Linked DNA regions of Homo sapiens. The protein of the gene in region 1 interacts with the protein of each later gene in a biochemical or structural test. Each region holds a gene or a part of one and is shown in the gene's direction. Other genes may lie near its edges.

Region 1 (7,028 bases):
CTAGAAGCTGCGTAAGCAGTCAGCCTTCAGCATAACACGTAGGTTTTGACGATTAGTAGAAACGAGAAAAATAATCTGAGAAAGAGGTTGAGAGAGGAGACATGAAGGAGAAAAATAGAAAATATGCTTTTTAGATAATTCACTATGAATAAACAATGTTTCTCACATTATGGGACTGCTTTACAATTCTATAAAAGAAGGAAAAATCTGTGTTTTAAGCCTCAGCGCTGGATACTTTCTGCAATGTCATCCCTTGTCAGCAAGTACCAACCTGATAGGAAGATACTGATCAATCGGTATTCACCGGATACAGAAATGAATCCCATGGGAGTTATAAAATTTCATGGTTTTGTCTTGACCTCAATAAGTTTAGCATCTAGCAATCTTAATAAAAGCAATAAACAATAAGTTAATAAATAAAACCAGAATTAAATGCAATAAAACATTAGAAGACAAATTTTGAGGACATATGTGATTAATTTCCAAGTGAATGTAACCAACAATAAGTAACATAAAATCAGGAGGGCGATATCGCAGTGGACTGGAACAATCTGAGAGAAGAGGCAGGCCTTGAGATGGCTTTTGGAGGTTGCAGAGAGGTGGGAGAGTTCTGTTAAGCTGAAGTCACAACATATGCAGAATATCAAGTTAGGCAAGCCCACTCTACAGTTGGCAAACCCTGAAAATGCCCATTGATTTGGGTGGAGTGGGAAGCTTGGAGGGAATAGGCTGGGATGCAGAGTTGGAGCCTTCTGTGGAAGGCTTTGAATGTCAAGCTGAGAATTTGGTACTTTATCCTCTAAAGTTGATTTCTGAGCAGAAGCTGATATAACAAAGTAACCAGGTCTTTTTAATATCCAGAAATTACTATTGACAGAGTGGATTTAATTTGCATTCTTCCAGAAGTAGAGGGGAGCAAATTGGTATCATAAGAGATGGTTAATGAAAAAAAATCAGTCCTTACTGAAGCATCTTTTAAGACTACTTTTCAGGATACATATACCTACATAGACATATAATTCCTGCTTGGAAGTTAATTGCAAGTTTCCATTTTCCATTATTGACTAAATGAAATTATGCAAGTTGAGCACTTGCCAGGCAGACTGAAAAGAAAGTCAAGAATCTGGTGATGAGACACCCCAGAAGGTCCCAGAAGGTGCACTTGAATAATAAACATGGTGCTGAACACTCTCTTGCCCTCTGTGAATATTCAGCATTGTCAAGTGCACTGACGGGAGGAATGAAAAAAGTTGTCATTTCTTCTGAGCATGTTTTGAGCAGCATGACATATAGGACCAGCCCCAAGTGGCTAAAAATGGGAGGAAAAAGATGGAATGGTAGAATTTTGAAAAACTGGAATGGGTAGTATATCAGATTTCTTTCCCTGCCTATTTTGCTGACTCTTGCTAGTTACCCTCACTTCAGGGCTACCTCGAGGTCTGGATTACACCCATTTCCTTTCTAACCTTGTGGTTACTACTCTCACAGAAGAGCTTCAAAAATCCAAATGCTGACAGAATTGCTAAGCCAAAATAGTCAGTGGGTTCATGTAGAGGAAGAAATGGCAACGGTAGATACAGATTTTACTGCCATTTCATTTCTGGCTATAAGGTATCAAGAGACTATCCTCATCTATTCTTCACTAAAACACTGGCAGTAGAGACACCACAGGATAACATTTTTATATCCAAGCTGACTACCTAGGGGAAACTTAGAGGTAGTGACATTTGATGCTTTAGGAGGTCAGGTTGGTGGTTATTAAACTGAGTCCAGGGGCTACACAAGCATCAAGTAAGGTGAAGGAAGGAGATATGACATAGCACTGAGGAAGTAGGACATGATGAGGGGACAAAAAGTTAAAAAAAAAAGTCTTACAAGAGGAAAAAGACTTCATAGAAATTTCTAGAGAACCCCAGCTACACTGTGAACTCCTCAGAATTGCTATTATTGCCTTAACAATAATACCTACTCTTTCTACATAATTTTCTTCACAAGACTCTCAAGCACTTCACCCAATATGAAAGTCCAAGGAATTTCTGATTTCTAAATAAATAGTGCAACCCACAGACACATATGTTCAGATATAGTATTAGATCACATTTAGTAAGACATAAATTGATTTAGAATGACAGAGATACCCAAATCAGTGATTAATCAGAATGGGCTTATGGGGAAGAATGTGACACTCATTCTAAAAGTGTTTACCTATACTGGCTCACTGTATCCTCCTAACAACCTTGTGGTCAGATTACTATTATTATTTCCATTTCGCAGATGAAATAACTGATGCACAGCAAGGGTAAGTAACTTGTCGCAGAGCAGAGCCAAGACTTAAATGTAATCAGTCTGACTCCAGAGATTAAGCTATGAAGTGTATTTTATGCTACCTCTTGCATCATCCATATTTTTCATATTGGCCAAATAAGGCATAGAGAATGTACATGTCTTTTTTTTTTTTTTTTTTTTTTTTTTTTTTTTTTTGCAGTCTTTTCCTCCTCACTTGGGTAGCAAGGCCTGAAGGTAAGGATGCTGGTCAGAGCCAGGAGACCCAGCTCTAGCCCTGAAACAACTGCTTGTAATTTCCTGTTTGGAATTACACAGTCTTTAAATTAGTCAGTGCACCACTGTTGAACTTGGTTTCTTTACTGGCAGAATGATAGAAGTGGACTAATGATGTCCAATATCCCTACCATTCAAAAATCAATGAAATCAGTGCTGAAAACCCCAGGCAATGGGTCCTGGCCTAGTGACCGATGGCCTCAGCTGGCATCATCTTAATAATGCTTCAGTAACTGATCTGGACCCAATTGGAAGATTAATTACATTCATCGCCTCCCTCATCCCAATCCTTATTTTTTCCCCCCTCAGAATTGCTTGCCTTCATCTTTCTGAAGCCTTCTCAGAGTTAAGAAATCCTGTCTTCTTCCTCAAAGCCCTATTCTGAGTCATCACTGCTTTGGGTATCTCCTGTCCTTCTCAATCAGATTTGTAGCTATCTAGCACATACTGTCTCCTACAACCTGCCTAAACTTTGTATAAATTTCTTTCTAGACCTCTTCTTGATCATCTCGTGTGTCTGACTTAGCAATGTATTAGCTGCAGTTCCCTCACTCATCCTCTTACTTCTTCTGCCGCTTAGCAAAGAGGAAACAGAAGCTTTTATAGAATCTGTGAGCTGTAAAGTACTTTAAAAGTAACATTCCTGTGTGACCTGAATCTCATGATACTGATAGCCAGCTCAAAAACTAATCACATTGGGAGGATGTGGGGTAAAATGACATCACAGGAAAGCTTTAAAAACATAGGACAAGGAGAGAAGGAAGCTTTAAAGCCTATGAGGTCAGAGGTCAGCAGTTGGTGGTACAATGTTGATTAATTAAATTCATAGTCACACATCAAATAAATTCACATGTCCCGGAGGGGAAAAAAAAAAAACACATTCGCCTTGTCACAACCTACTGCAGATTTCAATGTCTTTCCACCAAGGTAAAACATGGTATCACAAGAGGAAATCCTAACTGATTTTCTTATTGTTGACTACAGAGGTCAACCTCAGCAGTGACTGACTTACTGGTAAGAACAAATCTGTATCCCTAAAAAGAGATGGGGGGAAATCCTATTTAAGGATTAGCATTTCCTTCTAAATGCTTAACAATGATTCCAGAGAAATTCAGTCAAATGATGCCTGCTCCCGAATGATGCTGAATAACAGCTGTACTGGGCTTATGGCTTGCTTTCTTTGGTTGTGGAAAAATATATTTCATCCTCTTCTTTGCTGTTGTTGATATGGTTCATATTACTCAAAGATGTCTAATTCTCATGTCTTAAATTGAGACTGTTGGCACTTTCTGCTGACTCATTGTGTCTTAATCTTCCAAGGTGGTCCATTTTTACTTAAAGAAAAAGGTTATTTTCCTCCAAAGTGGCAGGTTCTACAAAATGACCATCTGGTCCCAGCTTCCCCATCACTTCCTTTATTCAAATGACACTAGTCACAGATCTTGAACTTGAGAGATGACTTTCCATGCCTGTAACCTTGAATCAGTGGTTTCTGTCCTTTACTGATAACAGCAAGTAAAAAAATGAAAGTCTCTTAGGTGCCCCCCTGAGGCCAGAGTTCAGCCCTACACTCCTGCCTCATTCCTTTTTCAGAGAATTTTCTCAGTTGAGCTCTGAAAATCCTGCAAGTTGGACAGAGTTCCCTTTCCATGAAGAGTCTCAGACCAAGTTGTTAATCTCCTTTATTTATGTTCATCTTTGGTACAGTTTCAAAGAATAATAACTGGCAAATTCCAAAACAGTGAATTTCTTAAATTTCCCTGCAGTTATTCCGAAGTTGGTCTGGCAGCTAGGTATAGGTAAATCACACTGTGACTTCTCTATCAATAAACAGAAAATGCACAGAAATAAATGCCAGAAAGACTGCTAGGAAGAACACTGGCAAACTATTTCAATACGCATTAGCCTTGTTGAGTGAATTTTTTATTTTAATGGGAAAGTCCATTCCTAATTTATGCCAGAGAAATTGCTGAATGTATCTACTTTTTCCAATTCCATGATCACTGCCCATGTATTGCTTCATCATAAATCAGCTGCTATTATGGCATTCTTCATTAATTAATCCATTGAACAAATATTTATTGAACACCTGCCATGTACCAGGAAAACATACACTGGTTCCTAAAGTCAGAGCTGTAAATAAAATCATCATGTTTCTGCCCTCCATGTGTTATGCTAGGTGTCCCCTCTTGAGGTGTCATTATTTTAAAAGGCATGTTTCAATGGGATGCCTTTTAGAATCTAAGACATTAATTCAATGTAGAAAAGAGCTATGGCTCTCTAATCAAAATATACAATCTATTGAAGGTTTCTACTGAGCTGTCAGTATCTACAGAGAGATTGCTATATCATAAACAAATACATATTAAGAACCAGCCTCAGCCATCACCGAACTCAGTAAATATCTAAGGTATGTCTTTGTGTGAACTTGTCTCTATTTACATGGCAATCAACTAGGATGTCACTAAAATGTCCCTTAAATACATGACTATATTCCAGTATCCCAATCTGTTGGGATCTCTCCCTGTAGAGACCACTTTCTGCCGCTCATGGGAGGAAGGGGTCAAGCTTTAAGAAACATGGTACCTCCTGGGCCAGAAATCCTATTCCCAACTCCAAAACTCATGGAGCAATGCAAGAATAGGTTGACTAAGAAAGGATCCTTTGGATGAGAGTACTTCCCAATCCAATCCACTTTCCTCCTCTGAAAACTTCCTGTCATTAAACAAAGTTCAGTGATTCGGGATCAAGTAGAATTATGTAGTGATTCTGGATCAAGTAGAATTATGTCTTAATTTCCCAAACTCCTACTTCTAGAAATTCACCTCTTACCAATGAGCAATGCCCCTATCTCCCTTGTAAGATTGATCACACTGCTTTGTAGTTACCTACTTATGTATTTCTCTTTCTTAATAGACTTTGGAAGTCTTTGAGAGCAAGGGTAATATCTTAGCTTTCTTTGAATCTTCAGTACCTATAACAGTGCCTGCCACACCCATGTATGCAGGAAATAAGTGAGCGAATGGGGATACCAGCTACCCCTTTGCAGAGAAAAGAATTCTACCACTGTAAGTAATCCTGCTTTTTATTGATCAAATGTTATGATCAGAATAACTCAGGAATTGTTGTGTACCCTTGCACATAGATTCATCCTAAATATTGGAATAAAATTATGTCCCAAGGAATTACTTAGGTTTACCCTAACTAGCTGCCAAACTATGGCAAATGGTATAATATTCTAATCTGTTGTTTTATCACTTATGAGTCAGGAGTTAAAATGCTAACGAAGGATCAAAGGATTCTCAATAAAGGCATTGCTAAAATCAGGTTTATATTCAGAGATTAAAAGCCATTCACTAAGAGCATTTAAAGTCAAGCAGTTTAGCATATATGAATTATAAGTTTAAATGTTTTACTGTTCACTAGGATGAAAAGGATATTTCATACATCCATTTGAGACATATATTACATTCACCAGTGGGGTAGATTTATGGCTTTGGCCAACTTGTGTTTTCAGGGTCACATATTTGCTGCTGTGCTATTAGAATTGGCATGGTGGACACAAGTTTTTCATGTCAATTCCGCTTCCTTAAAAGTGTCCTTCAGAGACACCAGTCTCTGGGCTTTTCCTCTCAAATAGTCAGTGTCCTCTTGCCTGGGAGAGAATCATAAGCCTGGGCATGATTTGGTAAATAAGTCCCATTTGTCCTTAGAAAAAAACCTTCACCAGTTGAGCATTGAATTTTGCATATCTTTTTTCCCCATTCCTTCTCATGAAAACACGGGTTACTCTGCATCCAACTTTCTCCAGAGAAGACTGAAGATACTACCACTTAATGACCACAAGGAAAAAAGTAACTAACTTCCTAAATGTCTACTGTGTGCTGCACTGGGCACTTGATGTATGTTGTTTCCTTTATTTTCCATGGCAGCCTTAAAAGAGTTCGGAACACTTGTCTCTGACTGCAAAGTCCATGGTTTTCCCCACCACCCCATAAATTATCCCATGAGTTGCACAAAATACATTGAGATCCTCTAACAGAAAGCACACTGCTGATACATAGAACGTGAGTCAGCCAAATCTAAAAAGCTGAGTCCTCCAAGCTAAATAGCCAGGTGAGATATGGTGGTGTAAGTGACCAGAGAAACTATGTGTCCAAACAAGTTCATGGAGCAATGGGTGGAGAGTCAGCTGGCTGCATGCCAGCTCTGCCACTTCAATTGTATAACCCTGAACAATTTACCTAATCTGAACTGAGCCTCACTTTTATTTACATCTGTAAAAGGAGAGCAATTGCTGCCATGCATATATGTCAAGTGGTTGTCGTGAGACCTAAAGGAGCTAATGCTTGTGAAGTAGTTACCTCCACCACTCTGAGAAAGAGGAAGGGACTGTTGTTATGTTCAGTTACCTGCTATTTGCCATACCAGATTTCCAGGGTTCTTTATTATAGGTTACATGAAGGCCA
Region 2 (7,028 bases), on another chromosome or scaffold:
TTTTGTTTAGGGTAAACTTCATGATCCAGAAGGCATGGGAATTATTCCAAGAATAGTGCAAGATATTTTTAATTATATTTACTCCATGGATGAAAATTTGGAATTTCATATTAAGGTAAATTCCTTGAGGAAAGATTATATTTTATTTTACAGCAAGAATAATGTTCTAAAAAAATAGTAAATGCTGGTTTCTTTAATTTTAAAAATTGTTTTTCTGGAAAGGTACAGTTGAAAGATCATTCAGGTTAGTAAACTTGGATTTTTGTTCATCTGCCATTAGATGAACAGGAATGTTAACTAACGTAAATGATTAAGTCTTTAGCCTCCTTCAAAAAATAAAGGAGGTTGCTTTACTGCAGAACTTGAAGGTTTCTACTACATAAAACTATTCTAATTCATTTTAGATGAAGATAATGTAATTTATGTCCAATGGGAAGACTGCTTAAATAACTAAGCTAATTTGGCTAATTTATGTCTTCCCATTAGAATGTGAGCTATGGCTGGTATGTTGATAACTGTCTCTCTAGTCTAAACAATGCCTAGCACTCAGACCTCAATATGCGAATAAGTTATATAACTTTAGTTGATCGGTGTTTTTTTAAATTTGCCCTTTAGGTTTCATATTTTGAAATATATTTGGATAAGATAAGGGACCTGTTAGATGGTAAGTTAAATTCTTGCTAATCAGTTTTAAATAACATCTGTTAATTCCTTTTTAATAATAGATGTGAGACTATTTCTTTGTAACCTATATGAAATTGTCTTAAGTTATTGGAAATAGACAAAATTTTTTTTCTTCTAAAGTTTTAGTTGAATACCTTTAAATAGAATAACTAGTTTAAAGCGATGTTTATGGGTACTTCTTAGTAGTAATTAGAGCATTGGACTGGGAGTTACATAATCTGAGCCCTGAGTTCTAGTCTTCTGTCAACTGTCAATTAGATACATTGTCCTTAGGCAAATCATTGAACCATTCAGGGTTAATGTTCTTGTTTATAAAATGTGGGTGGTAGGTTGGAGTGGTCCTAAAATTCTATATTGTTGCATTGGTTTCTATTTACATCTCCTGCTGTGTCTGTAAGGTCTGCTTTAGAGCAATGTTTTAATATGTTTTTAGAGTTCAACTATTGCTGTTAGGCTGCTCAGGAAAGCCTATCAGTTATTTCATATCCAGTGTTAAGAGTTTTAGGAGAATGTTGCTAACATTTGTTTTTCTTTCTCAGTTTCAAAGACCAACCTTTCAGTTCATGAAGACAAAAACCGAGTTCCCTATGTAAAGGTATTTATAGTACAGTTGTCTAGAAAACCCTGTAATACTTTTTTTTTTTTTTTAAGACAGAGTCTCACTCTGTCGCCCAGGCTGGAGTGCAGTGGTGCAATCTCGGCTCACTGCAACCTCTGCCTCCAGGGTTCAAGCAGTTCTCCTGCCTCAGCCTCTTGAGTAGCTGGGATTACAGGCATGCGCCACCACGCCCAGCTAATTTTTGTATTTTTAGTAGAGACGAAGTTTCACCATGTTGGCCAGGCTGGTCTTGAACTCCTGACCTCGTGATCCGCCCGCCTCTGCCTCCCAAAGTGCTGGGATTACAGGCGTGAGCCAATTCATTTAATATATGGAGGCTCGCTCTGTTGCTCAGGCTGGAGTGCATGGCATGGTCTCGGCTCACTGCAACCTTTGCCTCCCAGGCTCAAGCGATTCTCCTGCCTCAGCCTCCCAAGTAGCTAGGATTACAGGCACCCGCCACCGCGCCCGGCTAATTTTTGTGTTTTTATTAGAGAAAGGGTTTCATCATGTTGGCCAGACATTAACATATTTTTAAAAATTATTTCACAGGGGTGCACAGAGCGTTTTGTATGTAGTCCAGATGAAGTTATGGATACCATAGATGAAGGAAAATCCAACAGACATGTAGCAGTTACAAGTAAGTAGAAAATAACACTGGTTAGGATTTAAAACCAGCTTAAAATATCCTTATCCAGGTGATTAATTATAAGATTGCTTCAGGGAAATTGTTAAGGGGAAATCATGTTTGTTTATATTTGTTTGTGTAATTTCCTTGCAGATATGAATGAACATAGCTCTAGGAGTCACAGTATATTTCTTATTAATGTCAAACAAGAGAACACACAAACGGAACAAAAGCTGAGTGGAAAACTTTATCTGGTTGATTTAGCTGGTAGTGAAAAGGTAAAGTCTTCATGTATTTTGACAAATATTTAAGCATCTTTGTAAACTTTAGTTTGAGTTGGGAGTTACGCAGGGTTCATTGTTGCATCTTACTTACCAAACTGGATTTGGTAACCTGAGATTTGTAACCGCTGATGCCAGTGCCTTATGATGATATCAGCTGAATAATCAGTTCCAAGTTACTGTTGTTTGACCATACTCTAGTTCAACCCATAAGTGGTTTCTATGACTTAAGATATGTTCATAGTGAGAACTGGTTCAGCATATGTTGTTATAAACTTTATTAGATATCCCTTTTCTAATTTTTGATACGTATTTTATCCATATTGGCAGTGGGGTCCCTATTAAAACTGGTAACTCTCGATTAGTCTTTTCTGGTTTGGTTGGACTTATTTCTTTCCTTTGGATTATTGTTTCATTATTACAATTCTATACAGTCTGATTCTAGTCTATATCAAATTAAGTTTGAATGTTATAATAGGGACCTCTGACCATTTTTGCTGTTGTGCTAATTTTGTTTCTTCTGCTTAGAATGATATATCTATTCCGTTCTACTCTGAAGTCTTACACACATCTTTCAAAGATTATCTAATCTGAGAAATCTCCTAAGCTATTTCTTCAGCCAACATTGCTAATTTATTGTTCTGACCTATCTTTAACATAGATACTAGCTGGGCATGGTGGCACATGCCCGTAATACCAGCTACTGGGGAGGCTGAGGCAGGAGAATTGGTTGAACCCGGGAAGCGGAGGTTGCAGTGAGCTGGGATCAAGCCACTGCACTCCAGCCTGGGTGACAGAGTGAGACTCAGTCTCCAAAAAAAAAACACCACAACATAGATATTTAGATATTTTATATATTTTTAAAAGAAGCAGATTTGCTTATATAATGTGTTTAAAACTCAGTCTCTGTTTTCTAACAGTTACAACATCAACATTATGCATTAGCCAATTTTAGAAGGTTCCTGTTTTCTAATGTAGCAAAGGGGACTAACAGATTAATGAACTACAAATTTACATTTAAATTGGTTATTTTCAAGAGTACCTACAAACTACAGATAAAATTTGATGTCTCTCTAATCAAACTCTTAAGAGTAGTACTCAAGAAATGGTGGTATGCTTGGCAAATAAGATCATGAAGCTTTTCATGTTCTTTTTTCTTTTTTACTGGTTATTGATGACATATGAACATTTTAGAAAATGTAAAGAAAATTATAAACTTGTAATTTTGTTTCATTCTTTTGAAATCTTATGTATAGGTTAGTAAAACTGGAGCTGAAGGTGCTGTGCTGGATGAAGCTAAAAACATCAACAAGTCACTTTCTGCTCTTGGAAATGTTATTTCTGCTTTGGCTGAGGGTAGTGTGAGTATACATGTCTTCTATCTCCCTGTTACCTTATGGGGCATTATTTAAATATAGGTGTATATGTGTGCCTGGGTGTGTATGAGAGAGAGAGAGAGAAAGAGAGATTGAGATTCAATGTGTTTGAATCAGTATGTGTAAGTTAGTTGTCTTTTGGGAGTTTATTTTATAATAACATTTTATTATACTGGTCTTGTTTTCTTTCTTTGTTTTTGTATGCAGACATATGTTCCATATCGAGATAGTAAAATGACAAGAATCCTTCAAGATTCATTAGGTGGCAACTGTAGAACCACTATTGTAATTTGCTGCTCTCCATCATCATACAATGAGTCTGAAACAAAATCTACACTCTTATTTGGCCAAAGGTTTGTTGTTAAGAAAGTACAAAACCTAAATTTAGATAGACCTTTTGTTTATAAAATGTAGGAAAATGTGAGCTGTTATTCCAACCTGTACATACTGTTTTGTGCTAGACACACTCAGTTTGAATTGATGACAGATAATACAAGGTGGGTCTGATTTTTAGACTGCTTGGTTTAAGTTTTAGTACACATTAAAGTCAGATGTAATTTTAGTCAAATTTGTGTGACAAGCTGTAATTTGGTATTAAAGAAAATAAGCATTTGAATCAAATAATGAGGTCAAAGCCTGGCAAACATAATCCTCTGTTAAGCCTGTAGACATGCATGACAGGTTAATATAATCTGTATGAGATGATTAGGAAAATCAGTAATGATGATTCCGTCTTTGACTTTCAACAGTAATTTCTTAATTCAGCCTTGCAAACAAATTGGAAAAATATAGGCCTTTGTCTTTTATTTTTAGTGGTTTGTTGATTTTTTTTTTTTTAAAGCTATTCACAGATTTTGGAGCAGACTCAAATTTAGTTGAGTTGTAAATAACGTCATATGTTGCGGCTTTTAGTATTTAGTCTAAGAGATTACTGGACAAGCATAAGTTTCTTAGCCATATATACATATATTCCATATAGATAAAATTAAAAATAATTTCAGTCTCATCCTTTTTTTCCTCCAATTACATCTCTTAGGGCCAAAACAATTAAGAACACAGTTTGTGTCAATGTGGAGTTAACTGCAGAACAGTGGAAAAAGAAGTATGAAAAAGAAAAAGAAAAAAATAAGATCCTGCGGAACACTATTCAGTGGCTTGAAAATGAGCTCAACAGATGGCGTAATGGTAATAACTTAAGAATTTGTCATCTTCAGTTTGTTAAATACAGATTTAGAGCATAGAAACGTAGAAATAGTTCAGCAAAATCAGTAAGTGACTAGATCAAGAAATTTAATAGACATCGAAATAATTTTTAAAAAAATTAATAGAAATCCTGGAGCTGAAAAATAAAATGAGCAAAATGCAAGAGACCATCAGTAGTAGAATTAATTAAGCAGAAGAATCTGAACTTGAAGACAGATTATTTGAAAATAACACAGAGAAGAAAAAGTTTGAAAGAACGAGGCTGGGTGCACTGGCTCATGCCTGTAATCCTAGCACTTTGGGAGGCCAAGGTGGGCAGATCACTTGAGGTCAGGAGTTAGAGACCAGCCTGGCCAACATGTTGAAACCCCATCTCTACTGAAAACACCAAAATTAGCCTGGCATGGTGCTGAGCGCCTGTAATCCCAGCTAATCAGGAGTCTTGAGGCAGTAGAATTGCTTGAACCCTGGAGGCAGAGGTTGCAGTGAGCCTAGATTGCACCACTGCACTCCAGCCAGGGTGACAGATTGAGACTCTGTCTCAAAAAAAAAAAAAAAAATTTTTAAAGGAATGAAATTGAAATTAGCTTTAGACGTCGTTTTTTTATTAACCACTTTATTTTCTTATTTTAGGGGAGACGGTGCCTATTGATGAACAGTTTGACAAAGAGAAAGCCAACTTGGAAGCTTTCACAGTGGATAAAGATATTACTCTTACCAATGATAAACCAGCAACCGCAATTGGAGTTATAGGAAATTTTACTGATGCTGAAAGAAGAAAGTGTGAAGAAGAAATTGCTAAATTATACAAACAGCTTGATGACAAGGTAGGTATTGCTTGATTTAGGTCTGCTTTATATTAGGATACTATTGACATGGGTGTTTTTATTTTCTAACTTTTCTCATTTCAGTGCTGTGGGCACTTAGGATCTTTATGCATCTTCCTTGATTTCTGTTAATCTTGTAAAAATTATTGTATTAACAAAATAAAAAGTCATAATTTCAATTTCTGTGTGGAAACTGTATGAGCATGTATCTTTTCTTCCCCCTCTTTTTAAGCTAAAAGAACTTTATAAGGCAGCAGTCCCCAACCTTTTTGGCACCAGGGACTGGTTTCAGGGAAGACAGTTTTTCCGTGGATCAGGTCGGGGAGATGGTTTTGGGATGAAACTTCCACCTTGGATTATCAGGCATTAGATTCTCATAAGGATCCTCTAACCTAGATCTCTTGCATGCACAGCTGATAATAGAGTTCGCGCTCTTAATGATATTCTAATGCTGCTGATCTGGCAGAAGGCGGAGCTCAAGTGGTAATGCTTGCTGCTCACCTCCTGCTGTGCTTCTTGGTTCCTAACAGGCTTCCAGTACTGCTTTGTGGCCTGGGGGCTTGGGGACCCCTGTTCTAATGAAAATTTGGCATTGGGTCATTGGGAGCCTCAATGATACCAATTGTTAGAATCAGGGCTCTGAAGACTCCAATAAAAGATGATGTGAGAGATTAAGGGAAACACAATAGAGTGGAAATAATATCTTCCTGCTTTGCATATAGAAGTAATGTCAATAGTATGAATAATAGCAAACTAAGAACGTAATAGAATGGAAGGCAAGAACAAGAGTAGTAAAGAGATTAGAAGAAAATATTTTCTTAAGTTGATATTTTTAATATATTTTAAGCAGAGATGGCAGGTTCGAAGTACATGACCATTATAAGTATTGATAATTGAAAGAAATTCCTTTTGTTTTGCCATTTTCTTAAAAGAGATTAAAATAAGCAATGTTGAATTTAGAGAAATGGTTTTGAAATATTTCTGGGGAGTAGTAATCTTATAACCTGTATTGGGAAACAACTAGAACCAGGTTGTTAGCTACTGGTTAACCGGATACTTCACAATTCTAGGATGAAGAAATTAACCAGCAAAGTCAACTGGTAGAGAAACTGAAGACGCAAATGTTGGATCAGGAGGAGGTGAGTTGAATACCTTTTACATTGCTTCCAGAAAAGCTTTATAGTTTTGTTTTCTGAATCCCATTGACTTTGTCTTTAATAGTTGTATAATTTTGGGTATGACTGTCTTTGTGGGAATAAGAATGTCACATGGATAAAGTGAATTTTTACTTATTCATCGTATCTACCCAGATACAATCTGTTGTTCATTTCCGCCATCTTTTTTTTCACCCTGGTTCTTGACATTTCTCTTCTTGTCACTTACTTTGGATCCTCATTTTATCTTCTCACCCAGCAGAGCAGGGGGATAATT
Region 3 (5,713 bases), on another chromosome or scaffold:
GGGACTCTTGACAGCCACCGCTTTCACACCCTGGTCTGGAATAAGGAAACATCGGAGGGAGAAGTTGACTGTCTTGATAATTAGCCTGACCAGCAGGATGAATGCAAGACTGACAGTGATGGACTCTGTGACATGGTCAGGTTGAGCTGAAGCCACAGTTTCTCTGTGCTGTGTTTTCTAACACATTTTTCTGTTTTTAATTAAAAAAAAAAAAAAAAGGTTTTCAGTTGCTTTTGTCTCCCTAGGAGGCAGGTAAACCAATCAAAAACAGAGTTTTCTGTGTTTCCATGATAGTGTTGAAGCCTAATGACAAGCCAGGTCTTACAGCTGGGCTCTTCAGAAAACCAGGTTTCTACATCCAAAGACTGCTTTTCTTTTAGCTGCCAGATTGGATTGTGAATAAAAATAATTCTTCCCTCTCCCTCTCCCTCTCCCCACGGTCTCCCTCTTTCCACGGTCTCCCTCTGATGCCGAGCCGAAGCTGGACTGTACTGCTGCCATCTCGGCTCACTGCAACCTCCCTGCCTGATTCTCCTGCCTCAGCCTGCCGAGTGCCTGCAATTGCAGGCGAGCGCCGCCACGCCTGACTGCCTCGGCCTCCCGAGGTGCCGGGATTGCAGACGGAGTCTCGTTCACTCAGTGCTCAATGGTGCCCAGGCTGGAGTGCAGTGGCGTGATCTCGGCTCACTACAACCTCCACCTCCCAGCCACCTGCCTTGGCCTCCCAAAGTGCCGAGATTGCAGCCTCTGCCCGGCCGCCACCCCGTCTGGAAAGTGAGGAGCGCCTCTGCCCGGCCGCCATCCCATCTAGGAAGTGAGGAGCGCCTCTTCCCAGCCGCCATCCCATCTAGGAAGTGAGGAGCGTCTCTGCCCGGCCGCCCATCGTCTGAGATGTGGGGAGCGCCTCTGCCCCGCCGCCCCGTCTGGGATGTGAGGAGCTCCTCTGCCCGGCCGCGACCCCGTCTGGGAGGTGAGGAGCGTCTCTGTCTGGCCACCCCGTCTGAGAAGTGAGGAGACCTCCGCCCGGCAGCCGCCCTGTCTGAGAAGTGAGGAGCCCCTCCGCCCGGCAGCCACCCCATCTGGGAAGTGAGGAGCGTCTACGCCCGGGCAGCTGCCCCGTCCGGGAGGGAGGTGGGGGGGTCAGCCCCCCGCCCGGCCAGCCGCCCCGTCCGGGAGGGAGGTGGGGGGGATCAGCCCCCCGCCCGGCCAGCCGCCCCGTCCGGGAGGGAGGTGGGGGGCGCCTCTGCCCGGCCGCCCCTGCCCGGCCGCCCCTACTGGGAAGTGAGGAGCCCCTCTGCCTGGCCACCACCCCATCTGGGAGGTGTGCCCAGCAGCTCATTGAGAACGGGCCATGATGACAATGGCGGTTTTGTGGAATAGAAAAGGCGGAAAGGTGGGGAAAAGATTGAGAAATTGGATGGTTGCCGTGTCTGTGTAGAAAGAAGTAGACATGGGAGACTTTTCATTTTGTTCTGTACTAAGAAAAATTCTTCTGCCTTGGGATCCTGTTGATCTATGACCTTACCCCCAACCTGGTGCTCTCTGAAACATGTGCTGTGTCCACTCAGGGTTAAATGGATTAAGGGTGGTGCAAGATGTGCTTTGTTAAACAGATGCTTGAAGGCAGCATGCTCCTTAAGAGTCATCACCACTCCCTAATCTCAAGTACCCAGGGACACAAACACTGCGGAAGGCGGCAGGGTCCTCTGCCTAGGAAAACCAGAGACCTTTGTTCACTTGTTGATCTGCTGACCTTCCCTCCACTATTGTCCTATGACCCTGCCAAATCCCCCTCTGCGAGAAACACCCAAGAATGATCAATTAAAAAAAAAATAATATAATAATAATTCTTGTCCTCTTATTTTACACTCATAATGAGAAATCACAAGTTCTTTCTTGATGATCTGTGCTATAGATTTCTACTCTGTCTCCTCAACTCTGTTGATATTTGGGGAAAATTCTGTTTTTCATAGATTCTTTGAGATGCTGATGGACCAGCTTCAGCATGTTTGAGGTTGTCTGAAATGGAGATCACTGTAAAACTGTCTTTTTCTTTTAAATTACAAGTACACTGGGGTTAACTGTATTGCTGGAAAAACATCAAGAATGACAGTCTTATATTTAAGGCACCAGTCATTGTTTCCATTTTTTTTTTAATTCTTCCCTTGGATTAATATTTTCTACTGAAAAGAAATGAAATCTCAGTTCCACTATGATAAAAGAAACGAATCACCAGTGTCTGTCAGTGCCCCCACTGCTCCTCCTCATACCAGCATTGACACTGGTAGCTGAGGAAGGGGACTGCTCAATTTCTAATGTGATCTATTCAAGAAGCCACATATAAAAAGGCATTGAGGGCTCACTGTCCAGAGAATTGCTTTTGTAAATGCTCCACAACGTATGGGCAAAAGTTTAAGGACTACTGCCTGATGTACCAGGAATCCTGAGTTCTGTGAAAATCTGTTCATTCCAAATCTGTTAAGCATTTCCAAACATCCAGAGAATGGTTTCACTGTTGAGGGTGCATGTGGCAGAATCTGTCTCTCTCTGCACCTGTCTTCTGTTACCATCCCTGGACAGTGACAGATTTTAAGCCAGCCACCAGAATTCTTTTCGAGTTAACCATTTCTTAGTTTCTGTAAATTCATGACTTGTCTTACTGAACTACAGCCTGGTTTGTAGACTTCCAACATCTACACTGCTGCTCTTCACCATTGGAATTCACTGTGGTATTTATAGTATTGGCTTCAGTCCGAGCCACAGGCAATAAAAGGATATCAGCTGTAGTTCTCAGCTACATCATGGTGTATAGATGCTGTTATTCAGGCGAACTTGCTCATGGGTGGACTAACACCTGGTTTGGTACAGAGACTGAGAAGTTTTTCATTCTGGTGTCAAAGTTTTGTTACATTATGGGTGTGAAGGGCATTTGATATATTTTTCTTAACTATGGGGTTTATTTTTCTAAATGTGGGTTGATTGACTGTTAATTGATTCAGGGTACCCTTAAAAGAAAAGAAGTTTTCCCATTGTGAACCTTAAATGATCAGAGAAGTAAGTTCATTGATTAAATTCTCTGTTGGGAGAACAAAACTTTTCTCCCTTGACACTTTATTATCTTTGATTTTTCAAAGGGCCTTGATTGGTGGTTGTGTCTCGGTTAAAATTTATGGGACTTTGCTATGTAGTTGGCATTTATAAAATCTGAAGTATCATAAATAAAGTTATTTATTTAATTATACTACCAGTCTTTTTTACTGGTCTGATTCTTTTGTGCATTCATTAAAGCTGATTGTGTGAGAGTGAACTGGGACACAAGCTAGTCTAGCTCACTGCAGCCAAGCAAACCCTGTTGATGGCTGATGGGCCTTTCCATTAGGGTTTTGCTTATGTGAAGTAATGGAATTATGTTGGTTATTTTCTTTATGAAAATAAACCAGTTCTTCCAAGGAAGTTAAAAGGCTTGGTATGGATGTTGGTGTCAGATAGGTCTGACTAACCTCTCCGTGCTGCAGCCTATACTAAGGTGACCCAGGGCCACATGTAGACAGCTAGGCCAGTGCTTTTTCCTCTTAGGGTTTCTTTGCAGAAAGAAACCTCCAGCAAGGGAAGAGAGGTGTGTGTCCACAGGAAGGGGCTCCGTGGGGATCCCATGAAGGGATTTGAGCTCTTTCAGCTCCATGTCATTTAACTTTTTTGTTTAACCACCTTGGCTTTCTCTCCTTTTTTGCTGTCCTCCTTACGGACCAGTTACCAGATTCAGAGGCTAACAGTTAGTTACTTGTTAATGCTAGTCACAGCCAGGAGGTCAGAAGGAATTTTCTACTTCTGGATCCAAATGTTACCTCTTAGGGGAAGTTATGCCCCCTCAACTATTGTCTTATTATAATGAATCTTTCCTTTTTGGTCCTTTTAAGTAACCACTCAAAACTTTTCATTTCACTGAAAAAATATGAAAAACCATGACAATAGGGCTGGGTGCAGTGGCTCACGCCTGTAATCTTAGCACTTTGGGAGACCAAGGCAGGCGGATCGTTTGAGGCCAGGAGTTTGAGACCAGCCTGGGCAATGTAGCAAGACTCTGTCTCTGCAAAAAAAATTAAAAGATACCTGAGAGCTCACTTTAATATCAAGGTATTTGCATCCATTCCCACCCTGTTAGCTCTTAAGGGAGGAGGGAAATCAATTCCAACCATACTTTCCTGTGATGGAAGATGTTTCCTCTTGAAAAAATGCCAATACAGATTTTTAAAACCTATTGTTTTCCAAATGCACTTTGTAAGTTTTTGCTTTTAAAATAGCTTCTTGGAACCAATTTTATTGTATTTGTACTTAATTTTTGTTCTCATCTAAATGTGCATTTTCTGACTGTATAGAAGAAGCTTTGGTATGTAATTTAATAATAAATTAGAAATCTAAATGATTGCATTTGTAATTGTTTATATTGAAACAGTAACCATCAAGGTAGTTTGGGGATAGAGATTATGGTATCTCTGGTGTTGATAAGTGTTTCTCATGATGTCCTGAAACCCAGGATGAAATAATACAGGTGCTGAAAAGCTGTCACATGTCATTCAGAAACCATCATATGAACAGTCCACTAGTATTTTAGCCCTAGAAGTGAAGGGGAATCTCTTAACATGAAACTTCAGGAGGCATAATGGGAATCTACAATTGTAGAATTGGCTGGGTGCAGTGGCTAACACCTGTAATCCCAGCAGTTCGAGAGGCCGAGGCAGGAGGATTGCTTGAGACCAGGGATTTGAGACCAGTCTGGGCAACACAGCAAAGACCTTGTCTCTACAAAAACTAAAATTAGCCATTCATGATGGTGTGCACCTATAGTCCCAGCTACTCGGAAGGCTGAGGTAGGAGGATCATGAGCCCAGGAGGTCAAGGCTGCAGTAAGCAACGATTGTGCCACTGTACTCCAGCCTGGGTGACAGAGACCCTGTCTCAAAAATAAATTAATTTTTTAAAAATCGTGTACTGCTGGGCTTTAGTACATTAGTTGTGCAACCAGCCCCACTGTCTAATTTTAGAGCTTTGCAATTAATCCAGCCAGTGATCAATTCCTCTTCTATAAAATGGTGATAAGGATGGCTACCATAATTGTGCCCTGATTATATTGTCAGGGTTATGTGAGGAAATGCTCATAAGCATCTCAGCAAAGCCAGGGGTACAGGGCTCACCTGACATAAGAGATATCCTTGGGTTTGTCCTAATAGCGAGAAACCGGGCCTCTTTTGCCTCTTTTTTTCCCTCTTGCTGATGTGGGAGAGGAGAGAACATTCAAGAGGTGATCAGCAGACATCCTTAATTTTGATAAAGGCAGCTGAGCGGGGAAATATAAGGTCGGTTCTGTGTAGATAGACAGGTGGAACCCAGCAATCAGTTTAACCAGCCTCCAAGCGGTTCTGATGCATGCCAGAGGTGGAGAACCACGCTCTATAAGTACACACATTCTATTTAGTCATTCCATTCTAGACCGATAGCTTTTATTTTTAGTTTGGAACTATTACAAATTGTGCTGCTCTGGACATTCTCGAACATGGGTTTTGGGACACACATGTACACTTTTCTGTTGCTTATACCTAGGAATAAGATTGTTGGATTATAGGTGATGCACATACTCAGTTTTAAGATATGTTGTCAGACATTTTTCCAAAGCAATTGTGCCAATGCCCGTGCCTACCAGTAATGTGTGAATATT
Region 4 (7,688 bases), on another chromosome or scaffold:
AAGCCCCTCTCCCCACTTAGGCCCTGGGAGGTCACCCAGAGTGAGGTGGGTGCTAGGAACCCTCTCCCTTGCGGTTATTCTCCCCTCCTACAGAGAAAGGAGATCCACTGGCATCAGCAGCACCGAGCATGGACCTGGCACACAGCAGGGGATCAGGGATCCAGTTCCGGTCTCCAGTTTGGGCAACAAAAGTGAAACTCCATCTCAAAAAAAAAAAAAGAATTGTCAGGGTGGGGCCGGGCACGGTGGCTCACGCCTATAATCCCAGCACTTTGGGATGCTGAGGCGGGTGGATCACCTGAGGTCAGGAGTTCGAGACCAGCCTGGCCAACATGGTGAAACCCGGTCTCTACTAAAAATACAAAAATTAGCTGGGCATTGTGGTGGGTGCCTATAATCCCAGCTACTCGGGAGACTGAGGCAGGAGAATCGCTTCAGCCCGGGAGGCAGAGGTTGCAGTGAGCCGAGATCGAGCCACTGAACTCCAGCCTGGGTGACAGAGTGAGATTCTATCTCAAAAAAAAAGAGAAAAGAAAAGAAAAAAGAAATGCGAATTCTCAGGCCCCTCCTCAAATCTGTTGAATCTGAGACCTTGAGGGGAGGGGAGCAATCGCTGGTTTAACATGCCCTCCAGGCAACTGGGCTTTTCCAATTACTTTCAGAGCCACTGCCCTACCACAGGGGGAGCCCTGGCTTAATGAGGGGGGCAAGGTGCCTGACTCAAGGAGCTCCCAGTCTGATGGGACAGATGGAACCCTTGCCATCTGACAGGGAAGACAGCCTTGTGCTCAGGAAATTCCCACTGGGAGGGGAACACCTCGGCTTTTCACTCCAAGCCCCTACGCTGGTCCCTCCCTGCCAGAAGCAACGGGATAAGGTTCTCTGGAGGAGGCTGGCTACGGCTCCGACCCCAGAGAACCTGCCTCCACTTTCTGTCTCCATTCTTCAGAAAGCGGGTTTGATGTGCTAATGAGGGCATCAGTTAGGGAGCATCATTAGCATTCATTACAATAACAAGCAGGGAAGCGGGGAGGGTCTTTAGAAATTTACTGCCACTCACTCCTCTCCTATGGAGTGGGAGGAGGAGCAGGAGGGTGAGGAATGTGAGAAGGGAGGCTTAGGGGCTCTGGGAGACCAGGCTGTGTTCAGAAAGCCCCAGAAGCAGGCCTGGGGCAGCGGGAAGCACCCTCCTCCTCCTTGGCTCCTCCCCCACCCCTCTTGTGCCCCAGGTGCTAGGTCACTGCCCCTGGTTACTTGACCCAGAATAGGACCAGGTCCCCAGGCCCTCACTGTCTGCAGGCCACCCTTAGTGGAATGTGGATGGTTCCTTGGGGTCTCATGAAATGCCTGGCCAGACAACAGCCCCATGGACCGGGGGCTTTCTCAAGGATACTGGGCTGGGGGTGCTCCAAAGCAGCAGAGTGACCAGTTTGGGGTGTCCCAGCCATTATTTCCACGTCACCTTTTCCCTGTGCCTTCTCCTAGAGGCCCAGATGCCCTTCTCTGCCCACCCCAAGGCCCATCTCCCTTTGCCTGCCCAGATGTTTGTCCAGATGCAACCCCTGTTCCTATTGCATCTTGGGGAAGGAGAGGCAGGGCTGAGAATTCTCTCCTCTAGGGTGCACCCCCATAACCTCTCTCTCGCAAGCTCCCAGGAACAGGTGAGGGCTGGGTGGGATGTTTGGGGAGGCAAGGTGAGTGGTTAGGATCTGCTGTTCCAAGCCCCAAACATGCCAGCTGCCCCCTCCCCACCAAATACACTGCCAGAGGCACAGGAGAGGAGGACCAGAGGGAAGTTACCTGTTGAGGAATGAGAGCGGGGGCGGGGCGGCACCTGAGGCATCTCAGGTGGAGGCAGCTGGCAAATTGGTTGTGCCTGGGCACCATGCCAGCTTACAGGAGCAATTCTCATCTCTCAGCTGAAGTAATACCTGTGTTGCTTTTGCCCTGATCAGTGGAGATGGTGTCCCCAGCCTTCTCTCTCCACCAGGAACCCCTCCTTTTGAGACCTGGTGGGAGGAGGGAAAGGCACGTATTTTTCTTGGGGTCAATGAGGGGCGATGATGCCAGGCCATCTGTCCTCTGGCTCCACTTTCAGCCTTGGGACCTTGGGTTCTATTCAGGGAGCTGTATCCCTTCTCACCCCTCCAGGAGACCCATGGAGTCAGCTGGGCAGGGTGGGTGTGGACAAAGCATCTTTGGGGAAGAGAGGGCAGAAGGGTCTCAAATGAGCTGATAGCTATGAAGATGATCAGAAATGCTAAGGATTCATCATTAAAAGGTGAGCTATACAAATTAAAAATATTACATAAATCTGATTTAAGCTCCTCACTATGGAGGTGGCCTTCATGATGAGCGAGCTCACCTTAGGGCGGGTAAAAATGGATGCTTCGTTCTGCTGACACCTTTGGAACTGTTCCAATCCCTGGGGGCTGCATCACAGAACCTTTCCCACCCCACCCCAAGCCACTGGGGTTGGGCAGGCAAATCTCCACATGATGGCACAAGCATCTTTTCAATTGTCAACTAGAGGTAATGCCTCAGGTCACTCTCTCCACAATAGGACCAGATCCCTGTCTCCTTCCTGATTATGGCATGGCTATACATCTTAACTCTCAGCCACATTCCTGATCTCAGTTCTCTTCTAACGACTATATGGTTATGAGACTTTGTGTCCCAGGGGTTGTCCCTGCTGTGGCGACCCACAGGGTTATGAGATGATGGTGATAGAAGAAAGGCAGGGAGCTTTGACATAAGGCAGATGTGGGTTTGAATTTCAACTTTGCTGCTCTTACATTGGGCAATTGGCTATATCTCTCTGATAGGGGGTTGAAAATGCTCACTTCCATCAGGCTGTCGAAAGGGTAAAATTAGAGATTATGGTAGAGCACCTGCTAATTTTCTTCCCCTTAGGCACAAAGTGGGGGAGGGAAGAAATCTTGTCCCTTGGGGGGAATCTGAGTTGGGGGCAGGTGAAGGGCAGGAGTCCTGTGCAGTCAGTGGGTGAGGAATCTGAACGGAGGAGCGACCTGTGCCAGAGCTCTGGGCTCCCAGCCGCTTGGGAGGTGGTGTCCGTGTGCTGAGGGGAAGCTACCCTTGCCTCCCCTGAGCCTCCCCCACACAGAGCCTGCTGCCTCCCATGCCCATCCTGGGCAGGCAGCCAGGCAGGGCACTGGATGGATGCCCACTGTGCGCTCAGAGGCCAAAAGATGGGCACCATCCAGTTGGCAGAGGGAGAGGCAGTTGGCCCAGGAGGGAAGAAGTCAGGGTGCCTGCCGCTGGGGTCGTGTGCCCAGACTGTGTGTCCAGGACACAGCTCTTGGCTGTCCTCCTGATCTGTCCCACTGGAGCTGGGAAGGGCCTCTCCTCTGGTCCTGGCCCTGGCATCTGAGTTACTGCAATTGGTTATTTATCTCTAAGGGGAATCTGGGACCTTGTCCCTAGCTGGGCATGTGGTTGGCTCAGGGGCAGGCCTGGGGGTGGATAGGAAATTGGGAGAGCCCAGATTAAGGTTGCAACTGGGTAGACCAGGAAGTGGGGAAACCGGTTTGTCATTTGGGCCACTTGGGGTGGGGTCTCCTCTCCTGGGCTCTCTGCCTGCCTGCCACTCTGCCTGATGGCCCACAGTGAATAGAAGTACTGTGTCCACTCTCTTGCTCACCTAAACTGCTTTTGGAAACTCCAGAAGTAAATAAAAGGGACAGGGGACTCAGCCCACCTTCTCCTCCGCAAGAAAGCTTGAGAGAGAAGGGACTGGCCAGAGCATCGGAGCGAGGGAGGGAGGGGGCCGCTGGAATCACGAGGTGTCGGCGCGGGCCTGGGTCTGGGTCTGGGTCCGGGTCAGCGCTGGAGAAGTCTGCGGAGCCAACAGGTAGGCCAACGAAGGTGGGACGCGGAGGGGCGGGGGACGGCAGGGTGGAGCCGAGCTAGTGCTCTGCGGGCTGAAGTAGAGGCGGCAGTGACGCCGCCAAGCGAGGCGTGAGCAGGGACCGTCGCTGGAGCGTCCTACGGTGGGGTCTCACTGGCCGGAGGGGCGCGGACCTGCCTGCAGTTCCCGCGCACGCCTGCAGGAGGGGCTGCAACCCGGAGCGGGGGCGAGGCGGCGGCCCAGCAGGGGGCGCCGGGGAGCCCAGACCCTCCGACCGAGCCGCGTCTAGGCGCGCTGGGGTGAGGGGTCGCGAGGCAGAAGCAGAGGAGGATCCGGGCGCTCCCAGCATGGGGCGGCTGTTGGTTTCCGCGGTCACCTTGGCTGAAGGGAGCCCCCAGTCTCGCCGCCCCGCCTCCCCACCCAGCCCCGAGAGCCTTTCCATCCCTAGGCGCGCCCGGGCTTGGAGACCCAGGAGTCCTCCACCCTCCAAGTGTCCCCGCTTCCCCGGGTGCCTCCTCCGAGCCGGTCCTCGGTCAATGTATTTGTCTCTATCGTGGCGCGAAGACTACTTGGGGTGGGACGAAGCAGGTGGCGCGGGAAGGAGAGAGTGAGCGCGCCCCGCGCCCGGCCCCGGCCGCGCGCTGCGGGATCACGCGGTGAAGCTGGAGGGCGCGAGAAGGCGCAGTGCCCCCTCCCCTCCCCCGCCCCCGCCGCCCCGGGCGGCCCTTTGTAAGTTCCGGCCACACGCGCGCGCCCGCGCCGCGCGCGCGCCCGCCCGCAGTGACACACCCGCGCCGGCCCGCGCGCGCGCAGACACACACTCAAACACACACACACTCGCTCTCGCACACTCGGTGACACGCCCGCGCGCGCGCTCACCCACACGCCCGGCCGCCGGCGCCCTCCCAGCTGGTCCACCCCGGCGGGGCCCGCGCCCCCGGCCCGCCCGCCTGGCACCGCGCCCCGGGGCTGGGGCCGAGCGAGGAGCCCGCGAGGCGGCGAGAGGGCGAGCGCCAGGCAGGCCGGCCCGGGGCCCCCGCCCCCCGCGCCCCCGCCCGATGGGGAACGCTCCGTCCCAAGGCATGTCCCTGTCTCTCTCCTCCCTAATGTGCCTCCATGCTTAAGTGGAAGGTATTTCTGTTTTCTTTGTGTGTTTTCCCCCTCGGCCGGGGGCGGGGGCGGCGGCCGGGCCGGGGAGGCGGTGGCCGGCGGGGCGAGGGATGCTGGGGCGCAGGTGTGTGGGGGCAGGGGACCGCTGTGCGCCGGGCTTGGGAGAAGGACCCGGGCGAGAGGAGTGCTGGGACCAGAGAAGGGGGCAGGGTGGCGAGGCAGGAGACTGGGTGGGGAGGGCCTCACTACGCCCCGGGGTGGGGGCCAGAGGGGTTCAACTGTAAAGGGGCTTGTGTGGAAGGGGGAGGGGTGAGGAGAAGAAGGGGGATGGATGGTGAGGAGGGTGGGGGGAGAAGGGCGTCCCTCCGAGGTGGGGGAAGTGGAGGATGCAGGGGAGGGGAAGGGGATGGAGAAGTGAGGGGTGCATCAAAGGCCTCCCTCCCCCAGCTCCCAGAATGGGGTGCACGGGCTAGGATGGTGGTGGTGGGCCCTTTGCGCCAGCCTCCAGGGAGGGAAGGGGATGAGTGCGTTCTGGGGTTGGCCGCGTTGCCAGGATACAAGCCTGTATTCCACACACCCCCCCTCCCCGCACCTCGAGGCCCTAGCCCTGGAGACCTCTGAGCCTCAGCAGCAGTTGCAGAAACTGGGGACCAGCTCCCCGCTCTACCAGCGGGTAGGGAGGGCCACGAGAGGGAGGGGTTTAGGGAGGGGCTATTTGATCTTAACCCCTCCCCCTGCAGAGGCCAGGGGGCAGGGGAGGGCGCCCCCAGCTGGGGAGGGCATCTAGGGTGAGTGAGAAGATAGGGAAGGCAGGCGGCTGAGGGGTGGAGGGTGGGGCTGGGAAGGGGACGCACCGTGGCCCCCCCTCCCCTCCCACGCACCCCCCTGCTACGTCAGAAGCTCCCGGGCCAGCTCCGAGTCCTGTCGGTGGGGGCAGCAGGATGCTGGTGGAAGCAGAGGGGACAGGCCGGGTGCCTCCGCAGCTCAGCTGTCAGGGCCCGGCGGGGCGTGTGCGGCTGCTGGTGCTCGTCCCCCAGCCCCACGCGTCCCCATGCAGCCCTGGCAGTGCCTCCGGCGCTTTGCCCTGGCCTGGTGGGAGAGGACGGCGGAGGGCAGAGCCCGCTCTCCCAGGGAGGAGGCTGGACCGAGGGACCCTGGGGGCCGAGGGGAGCCAGGTGAGCAGGCGCGGGGAAGTATGCAAGGAGGGGGATCTTCCCAGCCCCCCTCCTCAAATGTTGTGGGACAAGGAGGTCCTGCAGCACCCCAACTTTAAGGAAAGTGGGCTCCCCGAGCTGGGGGTGGGGGTTTCTGGCAGCAGCCTTTCAAAAGGAGATGGAGGAGCTGCTGTCTGTTTTGGGGAAGGGAGAAACAGGTGAGGCTTGGGAGTGAGGGAAGCTGACCAGACTTCCAGGTTTGTGGGCCTGAATGTTCCTTTGGGTGGGGTTTGAGCACTTTTGGGGGGTCGTCAGGATACCTTCTTCCCGACTCTTGGTATCTTGGTCTGGGTGACCTTGAGCCAACTGCTTTGCTGTCTAATTCCTTGCCTCAGTTTCTCTTATTCCCATCCCTTTCCCTCTTGTTGATCTTTAAAAATTGATGATGCATTTGATGGAGATTGTGAGGCTGTCGCCACTGGTGGCAGCTGTGATGGTGGTGGTTTCTGGTGTGGTTGTATGTGGGGAGCAGCTATGGTGCATTTGAGGGGTTTTGCTGGTTCTGGTTGGTGATGGGCCACTCCATACAGGTGTCAGGGACATGGGAAGGAACATTCACACAGGAAGGAGTGCTCCAGGCAAGCTGAGAGTTGCTGGGGACAGAGACTTAGCTGGTGGCCTGGGGTAGAAGCAAGGGATGGGGTGAGGGCTCTGGGCATAAGGGGAGGGTTTCCAAGAATAAGATGCACCCCCCCTCCACCCCGCTGTCCCCACCCAGACTGCCTGGCACCCAGGCACCACTGGCAGCAAGTGCAAAGGCTTTGCCCTGGCTTCCTGCCACCCTGCCTTGGGGACAAGAGGGTCTTTGTCCAGTCCCCCCACAACAATTCCTGCTTCTTCTGCCCTTTCCACGATGGCTGGTTCTCTGTGATGACCCTCAAGGCTGGGATGGAGGCACAAATCCCCCTTCTGGCTCCCACTGTCTGTGCCCTGGAGCTCTATCTGGAAGAGGCAACTGTGGTCCTCGGGGAGTGCTGAGTGGAGAGGGATGCTCCACTAGGGGAAGGGTCGCTCGAATGAACCCCTCAAAGAGCTACCCCCACCCCAGGCTTTCCCCTGCCCCTCTACTTGCCTCCTTGCCTAATGCGGAGGGTCTGGGGTCTTCGTGGCCTCATCCCTGCTGGGTTCCAGGCGTCTTAAAGATGTGCAGGATACTGGGTTGGGCACTGGGATGCAGGGCCTCTCTGATGCACTCTCGCGCTCTCTCTCTCTCTTTCTCTCTCTCTCCCCCTCTCCCCCCTCCCTTCCCTGTCTCTCTCCCTCTTCCCTCTCTCTCGCCAGGGACCCACCCTGGAAAAAGGGTTTAATTAGAACCATTGATTCCTTCTTTGGCTGTGGGCATCGACAGTGTGGTCAGAGCTAGAGGGTGGGGGTGGCATGGCTGCCATCTGCCTATGCCAACCTTGGAATTCTCTGCCAAAACCCCAGCCCTGGAAGTGCTTAGGAGGGAGGCGGCTGGGCTCTTTGAAGTACCCAGTTTGTTGAGCCCCCACCCC

What was found.
Region 2: the proteins of SNAP25 (region 1) and KIF5B form a complex in vitro, tested with the Homo sapiens proteins (one study listed by BioGRID).
Region 3: the proteins of SNAP25 (region 1) and GOSR1 form a complex in vitro, tested with the Homo sapiens proteins (one study listed by BioGRID).
Region 4: the proteins of SNAP25 (region 1) and SRCIN1 form a complex in vitro, tested with the Homo sapiens proteins (one study listed by BioGRID).

The regions. Positions count from the first base shown.
Region 1 is NC_000020.11:10,221,812-10,228,839, forward strand, and holds part of SNAP25 (synaptosomal-associated protein 25), read left to right. Parts: intron 1-4,866; exon of another isoform or gene 4,867-4,969; intron 4,970-5,475; exon of another isoform or gene 5,476-5,627; intron 5,628-7,028.
Region 2 is NC_000010.11:32,032,414-32,039,441, reverse strand, and holds part of KIF5B (kinesin-1 heavy chain), read left to right. Parts: intron 1-10; coding exon 11-115; intron 116-615; coding exon 616-664; intron 665-1,223; coding exon 1,224-1,279; intron 1,280-1,834; coding exon 1,835-1,922; intron 1,923-2,063; coding exon 2,064-2,188; intron 2,189-3,447; coding exon 3,448-3,552; intron 3,553-3,774; coding exon 3,775-3,920; intron 3,921-4,603; coding exon 4,604-4,752; intron 4,753-5,403; coding exon 5,404-5,597; intron 5,598-6,667; coding exon 6,668-6,736; intron 6,737-7,028. UniProt on the Homo sapiens protein: Microtubule-dependent motor required for normal distribution of mitochondria and lysosomes. Can induce formation of neurite-like membrane protrusions in non-neuronal cells in a ZFYVE27-dependent manner.
Region 3 is NC_000017.11:30,522,392-30,528,104, forward strand, and holds the end of GOSR1 (Golgi SNAP receptor complex member 1), read left to right. Parts: 3' UTR 1-5,201; downstream 5,202-5,713. UniProt on the Homo sapiens protein: Involved in transport from the ER to the Golgi apparatus as well as in intra-Golgi transport. It belongs to a super-family of proteins called t-SNAREs or soluble NSF (N-ethylmaleimide-sensitive factor) attachment protein receptor.
Region 4 is NC_000017.11:38,602,944-38,610,631, reverse strand, and holds the start of SRCIN1 (SRC kinase signaling inhibitor 1), read left to right. Parts: upstream 1-4,679; 5' UTR 4,680-4,926; coding exon 4,927-4,948; intron 4,949-5,913; exon of another isoform or gene 5,914-6,029; coding exon of another isoform or gene 6,030-6,153; intron 6,154-7,688. UniProt on the Homo sapiens protein: Acts as a negative regulator of SRC by activating CSK which inhibits SRC activity and downstream signaling, leading to impaired cell spreading and migration. Regulates dendritic spine morphology. Involved in calcium-dependent exocytosis.